2 linked regions of the Homo sapiens genome follow. The protein of the gene in region 1 interacts with the protein of each later gene in a pairwise test. Each region holds a gene or a part of one and is shown on either strand. Other genes may lie near its edges.

Region 1 (4,356 bases):
CGGGGAGTCCGTCCCGGGAGGCCGTGGCTCCACAAGGCAGGGCGTGCTGCCACCAAAGCTGAGGCTAGTCCGAGGGCTCCGGCCCAGGTCACCGCATCAGAGCTACACTCCCTCATGTCCTGCTAACCCCTGGTGTGCACAGAGTTTAAACAGCCATTGGTTTTTAAAAACGAAGATATAATTCACCTACCAGAAGACAGATCATTTTCTTTTTTTTTTATTTTATTTTTTTACTTCTGAGACGGAGTCTCGCTGTCGCCCAGGCTGGAGTACAGTGGCATGATCTCAGCTCACTGCAACCTCCGCCTCCCGGGTTCAAGCTATTCTCATGCCTCAGCCTCCAGAGTAACTGGGATTACAGGCATGCGCCACCACGCCCGACTAATTTTTGTGTATTTTTAGTAGAGATGGGATTTCACCACGTCGTTCAGGCTGGTCTCGAACTCCTAACCTCACGTGATCCACCCGCTTCAACCTGGTGGTGGGATTACAGGTGTGAGTCACTGCGCCCAGCCAAGACAGGTCATTTTCAAAAGCACAATTCATGGCTAGGTACCAGCGGCTCACGCCTGTAATCCCAGCACTATGGGAGGCCGAGGTGGGGGGATCACTTGAGCCCAGGAGTTTAAGACCAGCCTAGGCAACATAACAACACCCCATTTCTACTAAATATCAAAAAATTAGCTGGGCGTGGTGGCACACACCGGTGGTTTCAGCTACTCGAGAAGCTGAAACAGGAGGAGCACTTGAGGCCGGAAATTCAAGGCTGCAGTGAGCTACAATCGTGCCACTGTACCCCAGCCTGGCTGACAGAGCAAGATGCCATCTCAAAAAAAAAATGAAAACCCGGGCACGGTGGCTCACGCCTGTAATCCTAGCACTTTGGGAGGCCGAGGCAGGCGGATCACAAGGTCAGGAGATCAAGACCATCCTGGCTAACACGGTGAAACCCCGTCTCTACTAAAAATACAAAGAATTGGCCAGGCCTGGTGGCACGCACCTGTAGTCCCAGCTACTAGGGAGGCTGAGGCTTGCAGGAGAACCCAGAAGGTTGAACCTGGGAGGCGCAGGTTACATTGAGCCGAGATCGCGCCACTGCACTCCAGCCTGGTAACAGCGCGAGACTGTCAAAAAACAACAAAAAAGCCAGGCGTGGTGGCTTAAGCCTGTAATCCCAGCACTTTGGGAGGCTGAGGCGGGCAGATCATGAGGCCACGAGATCGAGACCAGCCTGACCAACATGGTGAAACCCCATCTCTACTAAAAATACAAAAATTAGCTGGGCATGGTGCCACGCACCTGTAATCCCAGCTACTCAGGAAGCTGAGGCAAGAGAATTGCTTGAACCTGGGAGGCAGAGGTTGCAGTGAGCCGAGATCGTGCCACTGCACTCCAGCCTGGTGACAGAGCGAGACTCTGTCTCAAAAAAAAAAAAAAAAAAAAGACACCTCAAAAACCAAAAACTATCAAGTGTCCTATTCAGTGGCTCTTAGGACACTTGGAGTTGTGCAACCATCACCACTATAAAATTCCAGAACATTCCATCACCCCTAAGAGAAAACTTGTCTCACCACCCTACAACACACACAGCAACCCAGGCAACCACTGATGTGATCTCTGCATCTCCAGAAGCCAGAGCCTGGAAGCAGAAGCGGGGACAGGCGGCGCCTGGCTTCCAGACAGAAGGGCCATGTGGCCAGGAACTGAGCAGGACCCTTGGTCCCCCGGCCGCAAGCTGCTGAATTCCGCCAACGCCTGCGTGAGTTGCAAGCAGATGCCACCCCCGTTGAGCCTCCAGATGACAACACAGCCCTGGCTGACACCTGGGTTCCAGCCCGGTGAGACCCCGCAGAGAGGAGCCAGCCATGTCACATTCAGGCCCCGACCCACAGAACCGGGAGCTGGCGGGTGTTGTATTAAGCCCACAGATGCACGGAGTCTGCTATGCAGTGACAGAAAGCAAGCATGCCAAGTGTGGGGGACACGGGGCCCCCTCCCAGAACAGCACACAGCCTGGCACTGACACGGAACACCCACCTCCAGTGGTTTCTGTAAACACTCGCCCCCTAGTCGGCCAAGGGCTAGGAAAAGAGAGACCTCAGAAGACAAGCCACGAAACGTAAGCCCCGGAGCGCAGCCCCTCCCCTGGTGGGCCCGACTTCCCATCCCTTGACCACATTCCTGCAGCTGTGGTGGGCCCTGGCTGTCGGGTGGAGCAGGCAGCCACTGGGGTGTCCCTGCTTACTCAGTCACAGAGGAGGCCCTGGCTGGAGTGGGGCTGCGGGAAGAGCTGGGATCACTCCCGGGGCTCCTGCTAACATCCCTGACTGCCGGGCAGTGTGCCAAGGCGGCTCTCGGGTGAGAACCTCCCGGCCTGACATCACCAGCACTGTTACCATCCCTGCCGCTGGCACAGGTGAGGACATCCCTGCTGCTGGCACAGGTGAAGACATCCCAGCCACTGGCACAGGTGAGGACGGGAGGCAGTAAAGCCGTTACCATCCCTGCTGCTGGCACAGGTGAGGACAGGAGATAGTAGAGCCATTACCATCCCTGCTGCTGGCACAGGTGGACATGAGGCAGTAGGGCCACTCCACTGGAGAGGAAGGGCTGGTGGGGCCCCCAGCTCTCGGGATCCGCCCATTAGAAGGGAGCCTGCCCTAGGCGGGCAGACAGCACAGCAGAGAGGCAGGCGTGGGGACAGCCAGCCTGCAGGGACTGCTCACAGGGCCCTGGGGGACAGCGCCTCTGGCTCCCACATCTCTGGCATCCACCCCACCTGAACACCCCCAAACCACAGTCTCAGCTGGCCAGCCTTCCCCCACCTGCATCTGCCCCCACAGACTCGCACCGCAGGCCTGAGGTTGGATTACAGGCGTAAGCCACCATGCCCAGCCCACATTTTTTTTTTTTTCAGACAGAGTCTCACTCTGTTGCCCAGGCTGGAGTGCAGTGGCATGATCTCAGCTCACTGCAACCTCCACTTCCCAGGTTCAAGCGATTCTCCTGCCTCAGCCCCCCTAGTAGCTGGGAATACAGGCACATGCCACCACGCCCGGCTAATTTTTGTATTTTCAGTAGAGACGGGGTTCCACCATGTTGGCCAGGCTGGTCTTGGAACTCCTGACCTCAGGTGATCCACCTGCCTCAGCCTCCCAAAGTGCTGGGATTACAGGTGTGAGCCACCGTGCCCAGCCCACATTGCTTAAAAGTATAAATTAGTTGGGCACGGTGGTGTGCACATGTAGTCCCAGCTACTCAGGAGACCAAGGCGAGAGGATCACTTAAGCACAGGAGTTTGAGACCAACGTGGGCAAGATAGAGAGACCCTGTTCCTTTTTTCAAATAAATAAATAATAATAAAATCCTAAAAACCTTACTACCTGTGTGCTCACAGTTATTTCTAGCAGACAGTACTGCCTCAGATGGTGCTGGGGCTAAGCCGCAGATGATCTTAAAATGACTCCAGCCGGGTGATCCTGAACTGCCAGCCTGGACTACACATCCCCGCTGGTATGGACGGCTCCTCCCGCAGACAGGGATGTGTCTCTGGATCATTTCGCAGCCGCGCAGCTGTGGGTGCTACTCCTCGACATGCACTGCCTGGTCCACGCCTCAGCCGCCGGGGCGCCCCACAGATGGGGGACCAGCAGCCAGTGGAACTCCAGGCCAGTGGCCTTGGAGGTCACGCTGAAGCGGCCCCAGCGCTGCCCGAAGCTCACGCGTTCAACAAAGCACAGAACCGGAGATGCAGTGGGAGCCGGGAGCAGGAAGCGCGGAGGCAGCGCCAGGTGCTGCCGCTGCCCGAGGCCCCGTGCCAGGTGGGGCCCATAGCAGCCGACTCGCTGGGCCCTCCCAAAACGCACACCACGCGCGACCAGGACCGAGAGGCCCGCACGGCCCTGCTAGGCCACAAACACTCCACTGTCTCCAGGGTAAAAGACAAACACAGCCTCGCTTGTCCCTCCAAGAGTACAACCTCTGTCTGATGAAAAACAAACGACCCAGAGAGGAGGCAGCTGCCGGGACACTGCAGGCTGGGCCCGCCGCGCCCTTGGAGGGCAGGTCAAAATCCCGGAACAGGCACAGTGTTCAGGCTGATTGACTGTCCCAGGCCAGGGCGGCCTCAACTGCCAGAGCACCTCCTACCTACCTGCTATGGCCCGGGGGGACGACTCACTCCCACAGCGACTGCCCCCCAACAGCAGGGGGCCACCTGACCCTCCCTCTACCACACCCACCCAGAAGGCAGGCGACCGACCACTGGGACCCCTCAGGAGGGCAGGCAGCCCAGGTCCCAGGTCCCAGCAGAACACGGCCGCCAGCCTGGGCTGGGAACCGGCATAGCTCCAGGCA
Region 2 (3,977 bases), on another chromosome or scaffold:
TCATTGCACTTACCACTACCTGCATTTATTTTGTTTGTTTATCTCTTATTATCTGCCTCCCACTAGAGGAATGTGCCTGACTTATTTACTTTCTGGCACATAGTATCCACTCAATAAATGTTTCTTAAATAAAGGAACAAATCTTTAAAGTCTGGAAAGAAGCACCTTATGACTACTTAAACAAGTTTAGTTGGACTAGTATCCCTTCTCTATGGGGAGTAAAGACAATAAAAGTATAAAATTCCCGGGAGAAGTCCAGGATGAACTTCAAATCTTCTACCTTACTTGGAATTCAGCTTGGTCACGACTTGAAATCAGGAGACAGTGCCAGGCCTGGAAGTGGTTTCTACAATGTCCATTTATGGGTGACACATTTGGGGAAAGGATGGATTTAAGTTTGCAATTAGGTAGGACTCTGTCTTGCTATGCCCCAAGTGTACTGTGTTAGAATTTGTCTATCAATCCAGAATTAGTGCTTTTGAATTTTCTGGCAGATATACCAGGGTGGGGTGAAGATGCAAGATCAAGGCACTGAGAGGCTGCTCCTCCAAAGAGCTGGGATCTTTCAGAGGCTTTTTGGGTTTGTGCAGGTGCCAAGATTGCATAGGGTAGTGGATAGAGACATAAATCCCGGAGCTGGCTGCATCCATCACCACTGTTTACCAGTTGTGGGAGCTCAGGCAAGTTTCCTCAACTTCTGTGTCTTACTTCTCTCTTCTGTAAAATGGAGATATTAACCACATCTACCTACAGGATTGGTATAGGAAGTTAATGAATGAAAAGCACTTAGAATAGTACCTGGCATATGGTAAAGGCCATCTAGGTATTTGCTGACATTGCTGTTAGTGAAAGCCATCAACAAAGTGCTGGCACTATTGTTTCATTACAACGAAAGTAATTGTGTCAGTACAGGTGAATTATGTATAAGCCTTTTCTTTCCAAAACTTCCTTTAAGGTTGTTGTTATGTTGTTTTAAGAAAAAGATCCACTATCTCATTGTAATGTTAATGTTGAGGTACAAGGATAATTATACCACTATATCTTCTTGTTCAGATGGGGAAGTACTCTAATGTGTCCTAGGGATACAAATGAAACCACAGAATATCTGTTGTCAGGTAGGTACTTGAAAAGGGTTTTATATCATAAACTAAGAGCAGAGTCAGTCTCTGAGATGGTCCAGCACTAGTAGGGCACGTAGTCTTTCTAATGAGGTGGGTGGAGAGCCTGGACTTGGAACCAGAAGACCGAGTTGGTTTTGGTGCCTGGCTTTTAGCAGTGCGATCCTGGGCAAGCGGCTTAAGGCCTTGGGCTTGGTTTGCATGTCTGTAAAATGGGGATAGTAATTCCAGCTTACCTCAAAACACTATGAAGTCTGAATAAAAAATGAATGGGAAGAATTTTCACAACTGGTAATTTTTATAAGAATATTAAACATCAATATTGCAAGGGTCTGGAAGGTCTTTTTTCTCTACACACTCGTGCCCACCAACCCTATCCCTACTCCCTCATTCCCATTGCCCTTCTTGAGTCAAGCTCATTTAATTTAAGCTAAAAAATTTTGACTTCTGTTGACATAAAAATATACTTGAGGCCTAGAGGCTATTATAAAGGGAATATTTGGGATTGAGTTCAGGGACTAAATATGTATATACTGGGCATCTAAGGAAAGAAATGGGTATAGAAAGTAAAAGATGGCAGACAAAACATTTTACTAATTAGTTGGTCTGGGAGTGGTCTTTCTAACAGTAAAAGCAAACTGATATAATGTGGCCTAAGAAACTGTTTTAGAATTCAGCAAATCACAAAGTAGATGGTAGGAGTGGCCTTTATTCTCACACAGACCTAGACTCAAATCCTAGCTTTGCAAGTTACTCAGCCTCTCAGAGCTACGGTTTCCCTATCAGTAAAATGAGGCAATAACACCAGTATCCCAAGGTGATGAGGACTGAATAAATTGAGGTAGAAAACACTGGCATATAAGTGAAACTGATCTGTGCAAGGAAGCCTTACCAGGAATTTCCGTTTTTGCTTCCAGTGGCTGCCTTGGGCGTTGGTCGCCACATGGGCTTCGGTGACAGTTTTGATGAGCTCCCATTCCTCGTCTGTGGGCTCTGGCTTGTGCCCGATGGACTTCTGCAGCTCTTCCCGCCGTCTTTTCTCCCGGTTCTCCTCTATCAGCTTCCTCTTGGCCAGCCTCTTGCTGTCATCCAGCACCACTGGGAGGGGGAGAAAGATGAGACAAGGCACACAGATGCTCCCAAGATACACAGCAAGCTGCACTTCCTGGAGCCTCAGGAGTGGGACCACTGATGCACAGATGGCTTACTGGGTCCTTCGGGGTGGGTCACACTGGGACAGTTTCTCTCCTCACCAGCAAACTGCCATTGACTAGTCTTGTCCAACATGGTCTCTAGAGCCAAACTCCCCATGACCGGCCAGCTTTTCAAAACAAAGTCCCCAGAGAACCTAGACACTGCGCACTCCAACTCCACAGAAGGTGGTTCTAAAACAGAGTGAAGCAGAGAGGTAAAATCCATACTACCCACAAGATCACAGAGAAATCTGTCCAGCCAGTCATCCGAATTCACTCTCTGGGTTTCTGTCCTCCCCGCTTCCCCTAAAACGGCTCTTAGTAAAGAGAACTTCAGGTTAAAGAAACGTTATGGAATTAAAAAAAGAAACGTTATGGAGCAGTAAGTGGGAGGCTCGTGATCCCTTTTTTTAAGAGGAAAAAGGACCCCAACTCTTCATGGCTCCCTTAAGGGCTAATTGGAATGTGGCTGGGCCTCACCTGGGCCTCAAGGTACTCACTGTACATTATTCTCTACCTGGTCCACCCTCAAGGGTGGTTAAAGAGTCCAGGCTTTGGAATCTAGAAAGACTTGGGTTTGAATTCTGATATTATTACATTCTAGCTGTGTGACCTCTGGCAAGTTCCTTAGGTTCTCTGAGCTTTCATTTCTTCCTATACAAAATGGGCTCAATAATACCCACTTCACAGAGTATTCAATGTGATAATGCATTATAAGTGCTCAGTAAATGCAGTCCTGACTTCTATCATTTGGGTGAAAGGAAAATCAGAAGGGCAGGTAACAAGAAACCTATATTTCTGTGGTCAATTTCCAAAACCAAAACCGTTTCACTAGACTTGGTAACTATCAATGGAATGGAAAGGCTCAGGTTTTACATTGCAGAGTCATAGTATTTTAGAACTGGAAGGGAACTTAGACGTCATCTAGTCCTACTCTGTCTTTTCACAGAAAGAAGAAGAAATTGATCCAGAGAGGTCGTGACTTGCCTAAAGTCACAGAGCAAGTTAATGGCAGAGCCAAGGCAAGACCCAGGACTCCTGACTCCAGTTCTACGACATCACTGTCCTAGGGCCATTTCTTGATGAAGGTGTGACCTGGTAGGAAAAGAAAAAAAGCAGACATAGCAAGAGAAGGAGAACCAAGGTGCCTAGCTAGTCTCCCATTTAAATATTCTAATTTAAAGAGAATATTAAATTCCAGACCATTTAGATTTGATTGGATTGTCAAAGTCATGTGAGCGCTTACAAATGAGGAAAATATGAATGAGCCCTGTTAAGTCATTTTGGTTCAGTTACTAAAGGGAAAGGAGGAATGGTAATAATACCCTCAACCCCTTCCCAAATGCTTCCGGTGTGCCAGGGACTGTTGTATTTGATGAACATTATCTAATTTAATCTTGAAAACAACTCTACAAGGTAGGCAATGATTTCACAGAAGGAAAATCTCAGCTTAATTCCAAAGGTCACACAGCTAGTAAGTGACAGATCTGGGACTCGAACAGAAGTTTTTCTGATTAGAAAGCCTGAGCTCTTAGAATCCCTCACAAGCAAGTAAAGGGCACTCAAAATTTATTTCCATACAGTCTAGATTAACACTGAGTTTTTAAACCTCATAGACACTAGTATCTTAAACTTCTCAATAGAACACTGAAATAGATAATCAATA

The links. Proteins that work in one complex are often made in the same cells at the same time.
Region 2: the proteins of ADAT3 (region 1) and THRB interact in a two-hybrid assay, tested with the Homo sapiens proteins (one large-scale study listed by BioGRID and IntAct).

What each region holds. Positions count from the first base shown.
Region 1 is NC_000019.10:1,907,663-1,912,018, reverse strand, and holds part of ADAT3 (probable inactive tRNA-specific adenosine deaminase-like protein 3), read right to left. Parts: intron 130-4,356; 5' UTR 1-129.
Region 2 is NC_000003.12:24,141,491-24,145,467, forward strand, and holds part of THRB (thyroid hormone receptor beta), read right to left. Parts: intron 2,217-3,977; coding exon 2,011-2,216; intron 1-2,010.